4 linked regions of the Homo sapiens genome follow. The protein of the gene in region 1 purifies or fractionates together with the protein of each later gene. This does not show direct contact. Each region holds a gene or a part of one and is shown in the gene's direction. Other genes may lie near its edges.

Region 1 (5,084 bases):
CTCTGTTTTCCCAATCTGTTTTGTCAATTACTGCAATCTTAAGGCTTCCATTTGGTCTTTGTTAAAGGTAGAACAGAAGTTATTAACCCCAGAGTAAAAAATGTTCAGACTAACAGAAACACACAGCGATGGTAATTAACTCTCATTTGGAGATAAAAGAAACAGACACTGCCGTGTGCGGTGATTACAGTCTCCTGCAGTTATTTCTCTCTGCTGCCCTTATCCTCCAGTCCAGGTCCCATTTGGGACCTCTTGGGGATCCATTGATTTTCCGTGGAGTACAAACACCCTTAGGCATCAGGGACCATTGGGAATTTCCTGGTTTCTGTGTGCAGAATCAGATGAATGTGGGGAGAAGGGTGGGGTAGCCTATTCCTTACTAAGACCCCACAATATGCTAGGCCTGAAACTCCTTTACTTCTTACTCTTCCAGTCGATGGTTTGATTCCCATTTTGCACTTCAATAAATTGAAACTCTAATGGGTTAGATACCATGCAAGCTCATGATTAGTTTTAGTGGTTGAGTCAGGATTTGAACTCAGGTCAGCCTGAGTCAAAGACTCCTTTGGTAAGAAGCCCTATTTCTTACCAAGGGCCATAGGCAGGCTCTGAGGTGCCATCCTTAAGCAGAAGGAATAACAGGGTGGGGCACTGAGGGGAGGCAGCCCTACTTTTTCTTCTCATTAGCAGTTTCAGTCCACAGCTGGGAATCTAGGTGGCACTCTCCCCTGTGACCAGTTGGAGATAGTTTTTCGAGGTTTTGTTTTGTTTTGTTTTTTGCTTGTACCATAGACCACAAGGGCAGAAAAACCAAATAGATGAGAAGGGAATCCCAATAGGGAAATTCCTGAGGCGAGATGTGAGGGAATGAGGACTTTGCTACTTGGCAAATTTGAATGAGGTGGGAGCCCACATCCATAGCCTTGTCTGACCTCCCTCAGGTGGGGCTGCCTGGGGCACAGACACACTTTCTACTGGGACATGCTCTGCTTGCTGCTGGGAGGAAGTGGTGGGTCTTGAAGACCATATTGGGGACCAGCTCTGACACTAACTGTGTGATCTTAAGCAAAATTACTCACCCATCTGAACCTGTTTTCTCTCTTCTGTACAATAAGCAATACTTGTCTTGTCCAACCTACAGAGTTGCTAGGAAAACAAAGTACGATCATGTATGTCAGTGCTCTATAAATTGGAAAACGTTCTAGAAATAATTATTATTCCTAAAGTGAGGGAGTTTATCTCAAGGGTCCATCCTTATCTCAGAATTGTTATTACTATAATAAACCTTTTTGCTGAAAACCTTCATTTACTGATATTTACAAATAAGTCCAGCAATGCATTCCTTTGATTTTTATTCCTGCACCTTGGTCTTTTTTAAAATTATTATTTTTTAAACTTTTTCTTTGAACTCTGTTTAGGTGGTGGGTTTTAGTTTAGCGTTTGTTGTTGGGATTGTTATTTTGTTTGGTTTTATTTTTGGCTTGGAGGAGGAAAGTCATTGATTTTACCAAGCTGCATAATTTGTCCGAGCCTGACCCTCCTAACTCTAACATCCCTTATTTTTCCAGATACGGCCTCAAGGTGGACATCTGGGCAGCAGGTGTAATCACTTATATCCTGCTGTGTGGTTTCCCTCCATTCCGTGGGTATGGGCAACAATCTTTTATTCAGCGCCGACAAAGCATTTCTCTACTCTCTGAGTGATCCATTAGCCCTTCTTGCACAAAGGAGCCTGCAGCAGGAAAAGAGCACAAGAACTTTACTTGCAATCCCTGTTATTTTTTCCCTGTTATGTCATGCATGCTAATTTATATGCCTTCCATATTTCTTCCCCATATCATTAAAAACTCATTCTTTCTTTTTTTTTTTTTCTTTCTGGTTTTGAGACAGAGTCTCTCTTTTGCTCAGTCTGGAGTGCAGTGGCACAGTCTCAGCTCACTGCAACCTCTGCCTCCCAAGTTCAAGCAGTTCTCCTGCCTCAGCTTCCTGAATAGCTGGGATCACAGGCGTGCGCCGCCACACCAGTTACTTTTTGTATTTTTAGTAGAGATGGGGGTTTCACCATGTTGGCCAAGCTGGTATTGAACTCCTGACTTCAAGTGATCTACCTGCCTCAGTCTCCTGAAATGCTGGGAATACAGGTGTGAGCCGCCGCACCCGGCCCAAAAACTCTTTCTTAATTTACCAAAACAGATCCACATTGACATTTTTCAATCGATTAAAAATACACATTTTTACACATTTATGGGGGGAAAGGAAGGGCTCCAGTGCCTAAGACTGAAAAGATGTACACTGAGTTGATATCTTAGTGCTGTTTTTCCTTGTTGTCGTTCACCTAAACAGAAGTGGTGATGACCAGGAGGTGCTTTTTGATCAGATTTTGATGGGGCAGGTGGACTTTCCTTCTCCATACTGGGATAATGTTTCCGATTCTGCAAAGGTAGGTGTCCAGTGCCTTCCTCTTCCCTATATTCTGTGTGTCTTAACGGAATTATTTTTCCAAATCATTGTGTGCAAAGAAACTAATGACATCATAAGTATGATTTCTGTACACATTTTAGTTGTAATTGCTAGGTTTTCCAAGATTTCACAGTCATCAAGTCATCTGTTCCCAGACATCCCAACAAGTACTTATCAAGTGTCTCCATCTGCTGCCTTCATCTCTCTCAGGTGCCATTCCAGTGACATTGCTATAGCCTCTTGCTGTGCCCCACCCTCGCCAGGCTTGAGCCCAGCTCAGATTTCTATATGGCCTGTGGTTTCACCTCTCTCAGCTCTTGACTTAATGACTTAATTTCCCAGTGAAGCCTTCCCAGACCATCCTGGTTCCAATTGCATCTCTTAAACCTTACCTGGCTTGCTGTATCCTACTTGTCTGTTTTATTTTTCTCCAGAACACTTAACACCTGTGTGTCCATCTGGTGTGCTATCTAACTACCTATCTCTCTACCCAAAAAAAGATAGATATAAATAAGTAGGCATGTCTTCTTTATATAGTTCATTTCCAGACTCTCTCCACTAGAATGCAAATTCTGCGAAGGCAGGGATTTTTATCTATTTTGTCCATTGCTGTACTATCCCTGCCTAAAGTATGACCAGCATACTGGTGCTCAATGTATACTGAATAAATGAACAAGTATATGAATGAATCCATCAATTAATCAGAAGGAAGAAAACTCAACCTCAACGTAGGTTGAAATCATCAAGAAAGACTTTATGGGGAAGCTATGATTTAAGTTGAACCTTGAATAATAGCCAGGATTTAGAGGCAGAGGGGGAGGAAAACACAAGGTTCATTGTTTTTATCCCATGAAACTAAAAGATCAGTCCTTAACATGGATGAAGGTGATGGTTGCACAACAATGTGAATGCACTGAATGTCAGTGAACTGTGCACTTGAAAATGGTTGAAGTGGTAAATTTTATGTATATTTTACCACATTAAATAATATTTATGATAAATCAACTTCTAAGAAGGCTATAAAAATCTTACATTGAGATGTTTGTAGACCTTGAGGAGAAAAAGGAAAACCTTTTCATTGCTCTTTTTAAAATTTATGTCTCCGAGTGCTGACTTAAATGTTTAAAAATTTGAGAAAAATGTTCTCAATAATTATCTTGAGAAATAATTATCTTTTGATTGCTCAATGTTTATGCCTTTGCTTTTGTCATGTCCTGAATGTGAGTTCCCTTTAAAAGCCAACCCCTCAGACATGACCACTTTGTGTAGAAAATGATGCATATTGAGTGCAAGTCTCTCATTTTCTTCAACTGTCCAGGAAGCTGCCAGAAAGGGAGTGTCAGAGAAAGGCGCAGGCTAAAGGAGATGGGACGATACAGCTGCAGGGCCGGGGGCTCTTCAGGAACCTGTCCAGCTCCCCATGCCATCACTGCAGGATCTGAGGGCTCACAGTTACTGACAAATAGGACCATCTCCTACACCTCCATAGCACCTGCAAAGGGCATCACACACAGCAGATACTTTCACGAGTTCTGATCCAAGTTAGAAACTGAATGAAGAAGGCTGAGTGAACTCTCTCCCTCAATGAAATTAAATCACCCCCTTCCCGAGTGGTACTATAAAGCCTGTGTATGTAAGGAACTGGATAATGCATATCTAACCATTTTGTGACATGGGAACTTCTAATCCAGAGTGGACAATTGTATAGCATACTCATCGTTAAGACCCAGGTAGAGCATTCCTGGTCCAAGTCCATTTGAGCTCATGAGGAAGTTCCATTAATTTCAGGATGATGAAATTGTTTACCTCTCAATAGTTCTATTTTTCTTTGTATTGATTTGTCTGGAAATTTTTCAAGCAATTGTAACATGTTTCTTTAGAATTCTTTAGCTACTAAAGGATCAATTCTATCTTGCCACCCAGAATTGGGGAAAGACCCAATTCTATGTCTTTCCTCATACCTTTCTTTCAAACCTAAGTATGCCGTCTTGAAATTAGGGGGAAATTTTCATTTTTCCTTTCAGCTGCTAAAGTGAAATTTTAAGTAAAGTGTTTTTTTAAATGTGACTTCTATATTAAACTAATTAATAAATCTGTCTTTAACATGCAAAATGCTAGACAAAGAAAGGAATATTAATTCCTTAACTTGTATAATTTCTTTTCTATTACAAACATTTTTATGAAAATGATTCTGATATTAATTTAATTTTTATTCAACCACAAGCTATGTATTTACAATTCCAAGTGCTTACCATTTTTAACTTTTGAAGGTGATAAATAGCCACAGGTAAGTGGAGTTGATGTATTTAAGATTTAGAGCTTTTACAAATGCTTTTCGAAACTAAAAGAGAACTCTTGCATTTGCACACATACAGCTTTTCACCTTAAATTCAGATAAATGGACTCTAACGTTCCCCTTCACAGGAGCTCATTACCATGATGCTGTTGGTCGATGTAGATCAGCGATTTTCTGCTGTTCAAGTACTTGAGCATCCCTGGGTTAATGTAAGTGACTCGCACCATTTCCTTTGTTCTCTCCTAACATTCCTTTTAAAAATCAGTTGCAGATTTTCTAATGTTATTGCCTCCTTTTGAAAGTGTTGTGGGCCAGGCGCAGTGTCTCA
Region 2 (5,084 bases), on another chromosome or scaffold:
TCCACGGGGAACCTTCTTATCTCTAACTATGAGAAAAAGGGTGCCAAATCATCAAGGTCACTGAGCTGTCCTTTTCTATTTCGACCATTTGCTTTCCTTGTTTCCTCTGAGGGGATTCTAATCTCTATACCTCAAGTTCTCCCGTTTTCTAAATCTGCCAATTATTTAGCATCAAGCATATTGCCTGGCCCTATGTGAATCAGTCCTTCCTCCACACACCCGAAACCACCCCACCCCCACTTCCTGCCAGAAGTCCAGATACCCTGTCACTCCTAGTTGGAAACCAGATGCATATGGCTGGGCCAGAGGTGATGGAATTGGGGCAGGGCAGGCTAATGAGTAACTCAGGGAGAAGTGGCTGTCTGGTACAGGTGTAGAGTGTTCTCCCACTCCTTGCAGGCAGGAAAGGCAGAAGCAGACAGATGCACCTGAATCAACTTGTGGTCTGGTCTCTTCCTGGAGTACAGTTGGTGAGGAGAGCCCTGGACATGTGATAGGGGAGAGAAAAGTAGGGTCAGGCATTGGTGAGGGCGCAGGCCCTGGACTCCATGTTGCCTGGCCCTTGATCACTGTTTACCTGCCTGTCTCTGGGGCTTACGCAAGGCCTCAGAGCTGCCCTGCTGCCTTGGTCCCGCCCCACTGTCCTCTGTAACCAAAGGCGGGTAGGTTTCGGGTTTTCCATGTTGAATCATTTAGAGCCCTGCTTTCTGACCCACCCCAAAGATCCCTTCAGCCCTCCTGGCCCCTGATCCACATGTCCTTGGACTGAAGGTGATTGAGGTTAGGGAGTTAACCTAACCTGGGACCTGGGGGAGTGTTCAACACTGCCTCTGAATAATTTAGTGCTGTTGCTCAAGGGTCTGTGCCCTCTGCTGGGCCTAGGCTGGGAACTCCTTGACCTGGATCTGGAAGATCAGTAGATGTACTGACAGGGTAGACTGCATCATGAATAAATCATATGGCTTCTGAGAGCTGGCAATCTAGGCACTTCTGGTTCTAAGATCATGACTACATAGGGCAGCAAGTCTGGACCAGGAGGAGGTCCTGTTGCTAAGAGGTCCTGTTACTGAGGCAAAGTAGATTTGTCCTGGGCAAATCTCCCCACTGCTGTGCAAGTGGGCTTTAGTTCAGGATACAGCCTTTAACAAATATTTGTTGACATCTACCACGTGTCCAAACACCTGGGGACACAGTGGTTAGCTGCTAGCCATGGTCTTTGCCCTCCAGGAGCTTATTATCTCGTAGGGGAGACAGACAGGAAATAATTACTCCAATAAATGTATAAATATAAACTGGAGTAAACCTGCTGAAGGACAACTATAGAGCGTATAACGTGGATCTGACCTGGTTTGTGGGAGGCTGATTTGTGAGAACTGACCTTGTTTGTGGGAGTGGTGGTCAGGGAAGGCTTCTCTGAAGAAGTGACATCTTTCTATGAACCAGGTGAAGCCAAAAGTGCCTGTTGGACAAAGTAGCATGTGTGAAGGATGATATTTGTTGTCAGCTTTGTGATAGTCACATGCTAAATGTTTTCATGTTTAATATCTTGTTTTTCTCTCCTTTTTATTAAATTAGAACCCAAGTTCAATAAAGTACAAACATCTTTTTTTTTTTTTTTGAGATGGAGTCCTGCTCTGTGACCCAGGCTGGCGGATCTCGGCTCACTGCAGCCTGTGCCTCTCAGGTTTAAGCAATTCTCCTGCCTCGGCCTCCCCAGTAGCTGGGATTCCAGGCGTGCACCACCACGCACAGCTAATTTTTGTATTTTTAGTAGACGTGGGGTTTCACCATGTTGGCCGGGCTGTTATTGAACTTCTGACTTCAGGTGATCTGCCTATCTCAGCCTCCCAAAGTGTTGGGATTACAGGCATGAGCCACTGCGCCTGGCCTAAATAAAGTACAAAGATCTTAAGGGTATAACTTGGTACTTTTTTATCATTGTATATGCCCATATAATTATTTATTATCTCATTCTCACAGATAATAACCTTGTGGGGTATTATCATTATACCCATTTTACAGATGAGGAAACTGAGGCACAGAAAAGTTGTGGGTTTTTTGTTGTCGTTGTTGTTTTTGAGACAGAGTCTTACTCTATTGCCCAAGCTGGAGTGCAGTGGTGCAATTACAGCTCACTGCAGCTTCAACCTCCTGGGCTCAGGTGATCCTCCTGCCTCAGCCTCCTAAGTCGCTGGGACTACAGGTGTGTACCACCATACTCGGCTAGTTTTTTGTATTTTTTGTAGAGATGGGGTTTTGCCATATTGCTCAGGCTGGTCTCAAACTCCCGAGTTCAAGTGATCCACACACCTTGGCCTCCCAAAATGCTGGGATTACAGGCGTGAGCCACCACACCAGAAAAGTTGTGATTTGCCTCAGGTTGCATACATCAGGTGAAGAGCAGAGACAGGATTCCAGACCAGATCCTGACTCTAGCCCAGTGCATTTTCTTCTACTGGATGAGTGGTTTGGAGAACTACTTTACCTGTCTGCCTTCACAAGCCTTTTAAGATGGGGTGATAAAAGTTTGGATGTGCTGTCTCCTCAGGGAGAGTGTATTGCTTTCATCATTTTCTCATGGAGTCCCAGGGCCAAAAAGATGAAGAACAATTCCTAATAAAGGGCTCTTCTCTCCCTGTTCCTTTCTCTTGAGAATTGCTGGGAATTCTAAGAATGCTCTTCTTCAGATAGACCTTCCCCACCAAGCCCTTTGTCACCTGTAGCTCTGCCTCTCCCATCCCTTCCCCTCCCTTCTCATCTCACCCTGGCTTGCTAGCACTTTACAGTCCCTGAAAGGGGCCTTGCCAAGTTTCCTTGGCCCAGAACTCCATGGGGAGGTTGAGTTGGGTATGTTTGTGTTTCTGTCTGGCACGTTAGAGGCTCATCCTCCAGTTTGGTGCTAGGCTCTGGTGGAGACTAGCAGAAGGGGTGGGGAAGCTGAATTTTTTTATTTGCTTGGAAGACAATCTCTCCCCCAAGTTCCTGGAGCCAGAGCATACCTGGAATACATTCCATTTGCTGACTCTGAGCTTTAGCAATGTGGACCTGGGAAGCTGGCCTATGGATGGTGTTGGCTCTGGCTCTCAGCTGAGACAAGTTTACCTGACCTGGGGCCCCTTAAAGTGGCACTTTTTTTTTTTTTTTTTGAGATAGAGTTTCACTCTTGTTGCCCAGGCTGGAGTGCAATGGCGTGATCTTGGGTCACTGTAACCTCCGTCTCCCAGGTTCAAGCGATTCTCCTGCCTCAGCCTCCCGAGCAGCTGGGATTACAGGCCCCCGCTACCACGCCCGGCTGATTTTGTATTTTTAGTAGAGACAGGGTTTCACCATGTTGGTCAGGCTGGTCTCAAACTCCTGACCTCAGGTGATCCACACGCCTTGGCCTCTGAAAATGCTGGGATTACAGGCGTGAGCCACCATGCCCGGCCGAGTGGCACAGTTTTTAAACCACATTTAAATATTTTTGGCTGGGTGCGTGGCTCATGCCTGTAATCCCAGCACTTTGGGAGGCTGAGGCGGGCAGATCACCTGAGGTCAGGAGTTTGAGACCAGCCTGGCCAATATGGTGAAACCCCATCTCTACTAAAAACAAAAATTAGCCGGGCATGGTGGCAGGTGCCTGTAATCCCAGCTACTCGGGAGGCTGAGGCAGGAGAATTGCTTAAACTCGGGAGGCAGAGGTTGCAGTGAACCAAGATCACGCCATTGCACTTCAGCCTGGGCAACAAGAGCAAAACTCTGTCTCAAAAAAAACACAACCTTTTCTTGAATAGATAATACATCTACGTGGTTCCAAATTCAAAAGGGACATAAGAGATATACAGTAGAATGTCCACTCCTTTCTGCTCTTCCAGAGAATAGAAACTCTCCCATCCCTGTTCCTAGTCCTCAGTTCCTCCACCTCAAAGGCATCACTGCTATCAGTGTTTTTAAGTTTCTTTCCAGAAGTGGGATGATATACTTTGAGGTCTTCTATATTTTAAATGAGCTCTGGGAGAGAAGGCCCCCTTTTCTCCAGTGAGATGGAGGTATCTGCTCAGCAGGGTGTGGGTTCTGCCTTCCCTTGGTGGGAGGAAGGGAAGAAGGCACACAGTGTTTTTTTTTTTTTTTTTTGGAGATAGAGTTTTGCTTTTGTCACCCAAGCTGGAGTGCAGTGGCGCAATCTCGGCTCACTGCAACCTCCACCTCCCGGGTTCAAGCAATTCTTCTGCTTCAGCCTCCTGAGTAGCTGGGATTACAGGCATGCGCCACCACGCCTAGCTAAGTTTTTGTATTATTAGTAGAGACAAGGTTTCACCGTGTTGGTCAGGCTGGTCTTGAACTCCTGACCTCAGGTGATCCACCTGCCTCAGCCTCCCAAAGTGCTGGGATTATAGGCATGAGCCACTGTACCTGGCCACATGGTGGTATTATATGTATGTATGAAGATCAAGTAAAATCTTTTTTTTTTTTTTTGAGACAGGGTCTCACTCTGTCACCCAGGCTGGAGAACAGTGGCATAATCACTGCTCACTGCAGCCTCTCTCAAGCTCAAGTGATCCTCCCACCTCAGCCTCCCAAGTAGCTGGGATTACAGGTGTGCACCACCAGGCCCAGTTTATTTTTGTATTTTTTGTAGAGATGGGGTTTCACCATGTTGCCCGGACTGGTCTTGAACTCCTGAGCTCAAGCAGTCCACCCGCCTTGGCCTTCCAAAGTGGTGGGATTACAGGTGTGAGCCACTGCTCCTGGCCATCAAGCAAAATCTTTAAACTTTTAACAAAGCCTAGCTCCCCAGGGCTGTATCAGAGGAAGTGGATTCTTTTAGGTTAGTGAGTCTCAAAGTGTGGTACCTGGACCAGTAGCATCAGTATCACCTGGGGAACTTGGTTAGAAATGCAAATTCTCAAGTCCTAACCCAGACCTACTGAATCAGAAGCTCTGGAGGTTAGGTCCAGCAACCGGTATGTTAAAAGGCTCTCCAGGGGCCTTCTGTTAGTCTGAGAATCAGTGGTTTATCTAGTAGGAACTGACAGGGAAGTCAGCCCGCAGGTAGAAGTTTCATAGTTTCTAGTGAAGTCTCTCAGCCTAAACTCATTTCTTCA
Region 3 (5,084 bases), on another chromosome or scaffold:
GGGCTGGAGATTGAGCGCCTGGAGGACAGGGCTGGAGATTGAGCGCCTGGAGGACAGGGCTGGAGATTGAGCGCCTGGAGGACAGGGCTGGAGATTGAGCGCCTGGAGGACAGGGCTTTGTCTGCACTGTGCCCTCGGGGTCTGGGCTCAGTGAGGGATGAACCCTACCAGAGCTACAGGAATAAAGCACCCAACAACGTGTACGCCCAGACGAATATGGCGCTTTAAGAGCTGTGCGTGTTTTGGGGGAGCAGACGGTTGACAGTGTTGAGTTTGATTGAAGGTGAGTGCCGTGGGGCGTGTGTGAGAAGGGTCACGCACAGAATGTTTGTGAAACTTCCTTCTGGTTGGTTTGAATGGAGGCTCGGGGATGCTTCTGCTGCGTGACTTTTGGTTGCTACATGCCGAACTGAGGACGAACCAAAACAATGGTCCAATGCTTTGTAATAAAGGCTTTCCCTTGACACGGAGGGAGGATTTAGGCTAAAAATACACCTCCCACCGGGCCGGGGGCGGTGGCTCACACCTGTAATCCCGGCTTTGGGAGGCCAAGGCGGGCGGATCACCTGAGGTCAGGGGTTCGAGACCAGCCTGATCAACATGGAGAAACCCTGTCTCTACTATAAATACAAAAATTAGCCGAGCATGGTGTCACATGTCTGTAATCCCAGCTACTCGGGAGGCTGAGGCAGGAGAATTGCTTGAACCCGGGAGGCGGAGGTTGCAGAGATCGCACCATTGTACTCCAGCCTGGGCAACAAGAGCGAAATTCTGTCTTAAAAAAAAAATCCCATCAAGAGCTTTATTGTCTACTTGGCCTGAGCTGCTGTAGAAAAAACTGATATCACGGGTGTACCCTTGCAGGTTTTTGATTTACCAAATATTTGTTTTAGAGTTAAGAAAAGATATTCTGAAAAATAGTAAGAAGTTGAGATCATTATGTTTTGTTTTTTATTTTTTCAGAGACAGGGTCTTCTCTGCCGCCCAGGCTGGAGTGCAGTGGTGTGATTGCAGATCACTGCAGCCTTGACCCTCCTGGGTTCAAGCCATCCTCCTTTTTTGGCCTCCTCAAATGCTGAGATTATAGGCCTGAGCCACAGCACCTGGCCATGTTTTTTTTTTTTTTTAATGACATGTTTCGCTGAGAAACACTATAGGTGCTTGTTATTGAAAGGTGAGGGCAGCCGGGCGCAGTGGCTCACAGCTGTAATCCCAGCACTTGGGGAGGCCAAGGTGGGCGGGTCATGAGGTCAGGAGTTTGAGACCAGCCTGGTCAACATGGTGAAACCCTATCTCTACTAAAAATACAAAAATTAGCTGGGCGTGGTGCCGCGTGCCTGTAATCCCAGCTACTTGGGAGGCTGAGGCAGGAGAATCGCTGGAACCCAGGAGGTGGAGGGTGAAGTGAGCTGAGATCACACCATTGCACTCCAGCCCAGCGACAGAGTGAGATTTTGTCTCGAAAAAAAAAAAAGAAAGAAAGAAAGAAAGAAAGATGAGGGCGTTCGTAACTCCACACTCCATTTCCCTCCACCCAATTCCTCCTGAGTTTTGTAGCCCAGGCTGTTATTTTTATATTGTCCAGGTTTATAGCCCTTGCTTCTGTATTGTGGCTGTAGTGCCCGCAATGATTTAGTATCAATTCAACATTTAAATACAGTCAGTGCTCACCAAAGTCCTTTTACCATTTATGTCTCTGTTCATTGTGCTGTCCCTCTTAATCACCTAGATTTCATTATCAGTCGTTTTTTCAGAAGGACTCGAGTATTTCCTGAGTGTTTTTTTGTGTCTGAGAATGTCTGCCCATGGTCTTTATCTTTGAACAATGTAGAGATATCTTGGCTGGGTATAATACTCTTAGATTTATTTTCTTCCCCAACACTTTGCAGCTGTCATTCCACCATCCCCTGGCTCACATGTGCTGTGGGGAAGCCTGAGGTCAGCTGATTTTTCCCCATGTGGAGGCTTGTCCTTCCCTTCATGAATTTCTGAGGAATTCTTTCTTTTTGTCTCATAGTTCTTCTGCTTAACCAGACCATGTCTCAGAGTTGAATGTTTGTGTTAAACTTTTAGTATGAACGTACTCTTTGAGTTTCCAGGTGTGTGTGTGTATGTGTGTGTGTATGTATTTTTTTTTTCTTAGATGTAGTCTCAATCTGTTGCCCAGGTTGGAGTGCAGTGGTGTGATCTCACCTCACTGCAACCTCCACCTCCCAGGTTCAAGTGATTCGCCTGCTTCAACCTCCCAGGTAGCTGGGATTACAGGTGCCTGCCACCACACTGGGCCAATTTGTTTTTGTATTTTTAGTAGAGACGGGGTTTCCATGTTGGCCAGGGTGGTCTCGAACCCCTAACCTCAGGTGATCTGCTTAGCTCAGCCTCCCAAAGTGCTGGGATTACAGGTGTGAGCCACAGTGCGCGGCCTGAATTTTTCTGATTATCTTATGCCTTTCCTATTTGTTGGTAATTTTGATTTCAGTAAACTGTTCTAGCTGTTTCTAACTTATTGATTAGTTCAGTAAAGATGTTATTTTTGTCTCCTAATTTTCTCTTAGTTTTGGAGTTTTCCTTTTTTTTTTTTTTTTTTTTGAGATGGAGTCTCGCTCTGTTGCCCAGGCTGGAGTGCAGTGGCACGATCTCAGCTCACTGCAACCTCTGCCTCCCAGGTTCAAGCGATTTTCCTGTCTCAGCCTCCTGAGTAGCTGGGACTACAGGTGTGCGCCACCACGCCTGGCTAATTTTTGTATTTTTAGTAGAGACGGGGTTTCACTTTGTTAGCCAGGATGGTCTGGAACTCCGGGCCTAAGGTGATCTGCCCGCCTCGGCCTCCCAAAGTGCTGGAATTACAGGCGTGAGCCACTGCGCCTGGCCAATGTGCACTTCTGTGACTGTGTCTCTGGCCCCCGTTATGTGAAAGAGACTCTCCCATGTTGTGTGAGGCTGTGGGGTGTTAATTCTCATGGTGGTGACATCCCTTTTGTGACTCTACCGTGATTTATTCTCCATCCTGCGGGTGACGGGCATTTGGGTGGTTTCAGGTTTCTGACTATTATGGTTTGTTCTGCCATGAACATTCCTAGTACACATCCTTTGCATTTCTGTTGAAAGGTCCCTATGCGTGTGAATCGCTGGGTATCAGGCACGCAAATGTCTGCACAGGTTTCCCTGTAGTAGATTCTCGCAAAGCATTTTTCACTTGGTGCTCCCACCAGCAAAGCTGGAGGCCCCGGCTGCATCATCTTCCCTCTCAGCACGGGGCTGTCTCTGTCCTTCTGTGGTGTGTAGTTTGCCTTTGCATTTCTCTGATGACTGAGCACCTTTTCATACGTCTATGCGAAATTCCTCTTTGGAAAAATGCCCAAGTCGGCCGGGCCTGGTGGCTCACGTCTGCAATCCCAGCACTTTCAGAGGCCGAGGCGGATGGATCACCAGAGGTCAAGAGTTCGAGACCAGCCTGGCTAACTTGGTGAAACCCCATCTCTACTAAAAATACAAAAAAAAATTAGCCAGGTGTGGTGGCGGGCACCTGTATTCCCAGCTACTCGGGAGACTGAGGCAGGAGAAGCACTTGAACCCGGGAGGCGGAGGTTGCAGTGAGCTGAGATCGCACCACTGCACACCAGCCTGGGCAACAGAGTGGGACTCTGTCTCCAAAAAAAAAGAAAAAAAATAGAAACAGAAAGAAGAAAAATGCCCAAGTCTTATGTCTGTTTTTTCATTTAGGTTGAATTTCTTTCAATGCTTGCTAGGAGTGTTTAAAATATAGATTCTGGCTGTGAGTCCTTTGTCGGCTGTGTGATCCTGGATAGCCACTCTCATCTGCACGTCACCTTTCCACTCCTTCAGTGGTATTTTTGGATGAACAGAAGCTCTTAATTTTAACATAATCCAAATTATCAGTGTTTTGTGGTTAGGACTTTGGGTCCTGTTGAACAAACCTTTGCTGCTCCCAGATTTAAAAAAAAAATGTTCTCTACAAGCATCGTTTTACCTTTGACATGAATGGCTGCCTCCAGCTGGGGTGAGGCCTGAGGCAGGGATCGAGACACACTTTTTTCAGTCGGATGCCCCCCACCCCCACCCCGCATCGCACGGCCACCGTTGTCCCAGCTGAGAGCCCGCCTGTGGGTCTGGGTCTGCACCGTTGGCCCGCCTGTCTCTTGTGTGTGTGCCCCGGGTCAGACTCTGTCTTCTGTGGATGGGCATGCCCTGTGCTGGCCAGGGCAGTCAGATGCATCTTGTCCTTGCTCAGGCAGCTGTGCCCAGGTGTTCCCTTTGCTCCGATACGGTCAGCGAGGCCTGGATTCTCCCTCCTGGGCGTTTGTCTTCCTCTCGGTCTGTAGTTGCAGGGCAGAGTTCTTGGATCTTGGACCCTGTCGGCAACTTGACTCCACAGACTATGTGGACCCCACTGCTCTGCCTGTCACCTCAGCCCACGGACCGTGCGGGCCCCACTGCTCTGCCTGTCACCTCAGCCCACGGACCGTGCGGGCCCCACTGCTCTGCCTGTCACCTCAGCCCACGGACCGTGCGGGCCCCACTGCTCTGCCTGTCACCTCAGCCCACGGACCGTGCGGGCCCCACTGCTCTGCCTGTCACCTCAGCCCACGGACCGTGCGGGCCCCACTGCTCTGCCTGTCACCTCAGCCCACGGACCGTGCGGGCCCCACTGCTCTGCTGGTTACCCAGGGAAGTGTCTTCTGTTCTGCAACACACCTCACACACGCTGGTACCCCTGGTTCCTGGTGGCCTGGACCCCATTTCCGTCTGGCAGCTGGGTCCCCGGTTCACGCTCTTTCCCCTCGGAAGTTCCATTTCTCTCCAGGCAGGGGTAGAAGGAAGGCGTCACCAGGCTGGCCCAGGATATGGTCGGGGCACAGCAGGGCCCTGCCTTTCCGCCACCCCAGCTGGTGCTTCCAACACCAGATTGTGTCCCTTCTCTGAGTGCTGAGTTTTCTGCCTTTTGCCCATTTTTTTGTTGTTGTTTTTTGAGATGGAGTCTCGCTCTGTCGCCCAGGCTGGAGTGCAATGGTGCCACATCGGCTCACTGCAACCTCTGCCTCCTGGGTTCAAGTGATTCTCCT
Region 4 (5,084 bases), about 12 Mb from region 1:
GTGACTCTGCCAGATTCTCAAAATTGCTCACGAGTTCACCATATTTAAATTTTGTGGTCATTGCAGCTATAAGTAATCATTGGTAGCTCCGTGCTTTGTTTTCCATTTTTTATTTTCTCAGATCCTCCATATCCAAAGAAAAATACTACTGGGACTAAAGAGTGAGGGCCAGAGTCGTCTTTGTAAACCACCCAGCAGTCACGGATGAGTTGGTAGATAAAAAATGACTAATTCTTTTTCCAGCTATAAGCTGAAAGACTTCTTTAGGGGATGACAAAATATTTCTCTACATTAAAAGTAGAATCCTTATAATCAGTCAGTCGCTTAACGGGAAAAGGAAAACCTTAATGACAGACTTTTGTGAAAGAAGTTCTGATCTCTTCATTTCAGAGCTTGGGCAGTGATTACATAATGTTCTCTGGCTCCTTGCGGGTGGCTCTGTGGCAGCCACCTTGTCTGACTGCCTGGACTGGGAACAGAATCAGCCTTAATGTGTTTTGCCGAGGGCATTTCCTTTGCCTGGTTGGTTGAAAGAATCAAACCAAGCTAGTTAATGGCCTAGAACTCCTGAACAAGAATTTTTCTTATCTTTAACCCTCCCAGATCACAATATCCCGCAGACCATTGTTTTCCAAAATGTGCTCTTAGGGACCACCTGCTCTGGTTTTAAAATGCAGATTCTGTTACCTTATGCCACAAGAATTCTGATCACTCTAATCAGCTGGCTTATATAACATGCATTCCAGTACTTTTACATTGCTCCTGTCTTTCTATTTTTTTCTTCTGCAGGGTGAGAACTCTCCAGAAACAGTTCTATTACCCCATTTTTCAGTCTTATCTTTTCAGCAGCTATTAATCCTAACAGCCATTTCTATTGATAGTTTTATCTCAACTAGCTTGCTGTTTATTCTTTTCCTGCATTTTCCCCTTAATTGTTTTCACCTTCCTCCTCTCCTAGTAGGCATAAAGCTCTTAGAGCTATAGAGACAGCAAAGATGGGATGTATTTTGGGTAGCAGAAGTGAATTTGAAATTATATACATGTTTTATGCTATAGGCAACAATTCATATATTTTTGTGGCAATACTTTGAACCTTGGGAAATTGTTTTATATTTGCAGATAACAAAATACTTGATGTACTGTATCAGAAGTCCCAGTTTTGTCATTACATAACTACTTGATCTTGGGCTTAAATTTTTAGGTTTTCTGTCTGTAAGATGAGAGGGTAGGACCAGATGGCCTGTAAGGATTCTTCCAGTTTCAAAAATCTATGAAGATGCTAGGATTACATAATTATATTTGGCAGACATTAAATTGTTTTAATTGTGAAAAATAGCAACTACCTCCTCACTCTAACCAGACTATTCCCTTTCTTCCTTTTGGTGTTTAACATGTTACATTCTTCCCTCATATCAAGTAGCAGTGGGTCAAAGAGAAAGGAGATGGGTAGAGGTATTATGTAATAAAGCACATTGTCACTTCTGTTTACCTCACAGTGAACAGTGAAGTTGTCAGCACCTCTTTGTTGCAATGCCTGCTTATGAAACCCCTTTTCCAGTATCAGGCCACAGAATAGCTTAAGCTTGCTTCATATGTATCCCTGCAAGTTGTTTTGCTGACAAATAGTGTTGCTTTCTCTCTACCCCACTTTGTAGATATTCTTTAAAAGGAGAGAGAAAAGTAAAGTGCTGATATAGGAGAGAAAATAGTGGCAGGGTGAGTGCAAGAGAGAAAGTGAAGGCCGACTCACCCAGTAAAAGTTTTGAGTTACCCATGACAAATGGCTGTTTAGACCCTGGTTCTTTACCCTTTCTGGTTTTCCCTATTCACACAATCAAGACTGAAGGTTTTGATAATTAAGCTTTTCGTTTGTGGTGGTGGTTTTGTTTGTGTGTTTTTTGGGGAGTGAGGAGAAGGGACATAAAATGCATGGCTGGCCATTTACTATAATGTTGATATAATGCTCTCAAGGGATTGAGAGCTTGGTTCTCTTTAACCAAAGTGCATCTTATTACCTAGTTATGTAATTCCGTGTTTGCAGATATTGGCCAGTGAAACTTTTACATTACATTTTGGTTCTCCATGAGGATATTAATATCTGAATTGAGGGTTTAGTGCTGGGAAATAAATGAATTGCGTCTGTGCATCCCAAATGCCTTGGCAGGACCTCCTGTGTACACATCCCTGACAGGACACTGCTGTAGCATATTGGGTGTGCAAGGTTGCATATTGCACAGGATTGTAGTCTTCCCAACTAGACAGAAATGAGTATAATATACTTGGCATAATAAGCCTGAGTGACCTCATGGAATTCAACTCTGACATATAAAAGGTTTATGTGACTGGAAGTATTTTTTAAGCAGAAATATCTCAAATACGTTTATGTTACAGGCCTATTTAAATTAATTTAGAATTTGACTTACAAGGTGTTTATTATGCATTTCCAAATCTTGACTTGTGGGTAAATGTACATAGAAACATGTACTAAGTAGTCATTGGGGGAGATTTTATTTCTCTTAGTTTTATCATACCATAACTTAAATGTCTGGCGTGTCTATTCAAAACCCACATTCTTTTTCCAAAAGGAAATACTACTTCCTGAATTCCTAGATTTAACTAAAGCTTCTTGTACTGCTTTGTATGTCAGTGTCAGTAAAGGAAGACTCAGAAAAAAAAATCTTTTTGGGTTACCAGTAAAATCATCCTCTTAAATTTTTTGGCAAACGTGGCATTTTATTAGAGCTTAAAGACTAAAGGAAAAGAAATTAAGGACTTTAGACCGTTACTGAAACCTGTTAAAGGATTTGACAATTCTGAATTTCTGAATGAGGTGATTTTTGCCTAAATGATATACAAAATATTAACACTGGAGCTGTGCTTCACAATGAAAGTCTTTTCCAAAGTAGACAGCTGAAAGTTGAAAATTGGAAATTATAACACTAAGGACATCATTTTTGAAAAATTTCCACTTAATTGTGATTATCCCTTTTAATTAGTACTTACAACACATATTTTTAATAGCTTTAAGGAGATCTACAATACAACCTCATTTTATAAGTGTTATCAACAATTGAATGAACAAGATTATTTTAAATTATTGTGCATTCTTTAAGCTCTTTTATTAGAGGAAAAAACTTTTTGCAGTATTTCTATAATTGTACTTGGGGAAAAATCAGGTAAGAATGAACGTAGACTTTTTATTCTTAAACAGAAAAGTTTGAATCTTGAGTTGTAGCGATGAGGAAATTACCCTTGTTTTTATGGTAGAGATATATTCTGATTTTTCACTTAATGTTTTATCTTTCAGTACTGATAAGTTACCAGCAATAATTTTATGATGTTGAACTAACATAAGTACGACAAAAGAGAAATAAAATTTTCACAGCTTATATATAATACCACTTCTGAGTTAAATATCCTGGACGTTTATTTGGGAAAGTGATACTAAGTATGGTGGTGGATATTTTGTACTTTGAAATTTTGAAATATTTGCATAAACCGTTTTTGGCATAGTTGAATTTCATACTTTAAAAAACAAGTTTGGTGGATTTTTGTGTTTATTTGAATGATTAACTTTAAGGCTCAAATTATTATTTTTTTTTAGTGAAAGCAAGTTTATTAAGAAAGTAAAGGAGTAAAAGAATGGTACTGCATAGGCAGAGCAGTCAAGATGCAAATTATTTTTAAAAGTTGTTTGTTTTCAGAATGAGTTAAGGATAAAGCTTAAGTCTTAACTATTTTCTCTGCTTATATATGATTATAATGTTTTAAATTATTTTATATAAAAATTTTAAAAGATGCATTGTTAATTAAATCACTTGAATCTCTGCAGTATCCAAAAGCAGACCCATTTTTATGCTGGGGAAAATGATTTTTGAGAGCTAGTCTATTTAGCTTTGCATTATCAGTTTTCAGTTTTTCATTTTATATAACTTTATCCAATTCATTTTTTCCTCCCTTTAATACTGGGACATAAAATTTCCTGTCTATCAGTTTTACCTAGGGCCGTGCTAGGCATCTTAAGCAGAGAAGGCAAATTCAGTGTCTCCTGGGCTGAAGCAGATGAATTGTTGAAGCTGGACTTTTTGCATATGAAACAAGTAAGAATATTCTTGGTTTTCCTGCCAGGCGCAAGCCACCGCCTGTAATCCCAGCACTTTGGGATACTGAGGCTGGTGGATCACCTGAGGTCAGGAGTTCGAGATAAGCCTGGCCAACATAGCAAAATTCTGTCTCTACTAAAACAAAAATTAGCCAGGCGTGGTGGCATGCGCCTGTGATTCCAGCTTTTTGGGAGGCTGAAACAGGAGAATCGCTTGAATCTGGGAGATGGAGGCTGCAGTGAGCTGAGATTGCGCCATTGCATTCCAGCCTGGGTGACACAGCAAGACTCTGTCTCAAAAAACAAAAGAATATTCTTGGTTTTCATTTTTAAAACATGAGTCCAGTGTTGCTGGATCCTCCAATTTTCCAAGGCAAGCTAAAAATCAGTACTATTTTAATTTATACAACAATTTTAGCCCAAAACACTGAAGGCATGGGCCACTATTTTATAATCTCCTTTAAAGTGGAACGCAGGACTGGCAAATTATAGCCTATATCTTCAAATACTGCCTGCCTGCTGTTTTTCTGTAGCCCATGGGGTAAGAATGATTTTTATATTTTTTAATGGTTGGGAAAAATATCAAAGGAATGATATTTCTCCTTTTTGCCCAGTACCCTCACTGAATTGTTGGGGAGGGGCTGCTGCTATTCAGGAAGCAGCAGCACTAGCAGAATTCAGGTTATACAGTCATTCTTCAAAAGATTTAAATTTTGTCTCTATCACTTACTTTGATACCTTGGGTAAGTTACTTCAGTTCTCTGTGTCTCAGTTTTTTCATCAGCAAAATAGGGAAAATAATAATCTGTAACAATAATAGCACAATGCCTGGAACAGAGTTAAAAATTAGTAGATTTCAGCTACTGTTATTTTTATTTATTTTTTTGTTGAGAAACAGTCTTGCCCTGTCACCCAGGCAGGAATGCAATGGTGTGATCTTGGCTCACTGCAGCCTCTGCCTCCCGGGTTCAAGTGATTCTCC

The links.
Region 2: the proteins of DCLK1 (region 1) and CGN purify together in Homo sapiens (affinity purification with mass spectrometry, with the first as the bait; one large-scale study listed by BioGRID). This does not show direct contact.
Region 3: the proteins of DCLK1 (region 1) and RAB40B purify together in Homo sapiens (affinity purification with western blotting, with the first as the bait; one study listed by BioGRID). This does not show direct contact.
Region 4: the proteins of DCLK1 (region 1) and ITM2B purify together in Homo sapiens (co-immunoprecipitation; one large-scale study listed by IntAct). This does not show direct contact.

The regions. Positions count from the first base shown.
Region 1 is NC_000013.11:35,805,580-35,810,663, reverse strand, and holds part of DCLK1 (serine/threonine-protein kinase DCLK1), read left to right. Parts: intron 1-1,568; coding exon 1,569-1,646; intron 1,647-2,343; coding exon 2,344-2,440; intron 2,441-4,884; coding exon 4,885-4,965; intron 4,966-5,084.
Region 2 is NC_000001.11:151,513,414-151,518,497, forward strand, and holds part of CGN (cingulin), read left to right. Parts: intron 1-5,084. UniProt on the Homo sapiens protein: Probably plays a role in the formation and regulation of the tight junction (TJ) paracellular permeability barrier.
Region 3 is NC_000017.11:82,691,588-82,696,671, reverse strand, and holds part of RAB40B (ras-related protein Rab-40B), read left to right. Parts: exon of another isoform or gene 1-283; intron 284-5,084. UniProt on the Homo sapiens protein: RAB40B small GTPase acts as substrate-recognition components of the ECS(RAB40B) E3 ubiquitin ligase complex which mediates the ubiquitination of target proteins.
Region 4 is NC_000013.11:48,235,233-48,240,316, forward strand, and holds part of ITM2B (integral membrane protein 2B), read left to right. Parts: intron 1-5,084. UniProt on the Homo sapiens protein: Plays a regulatory role in the processing of the amyloid-beta A4 precursor protein (APP) and acts as an inhibitor of the amyloid-beta peptide aggregation and fibrils deposition. Plays a role in the induction of neurite outgrowth.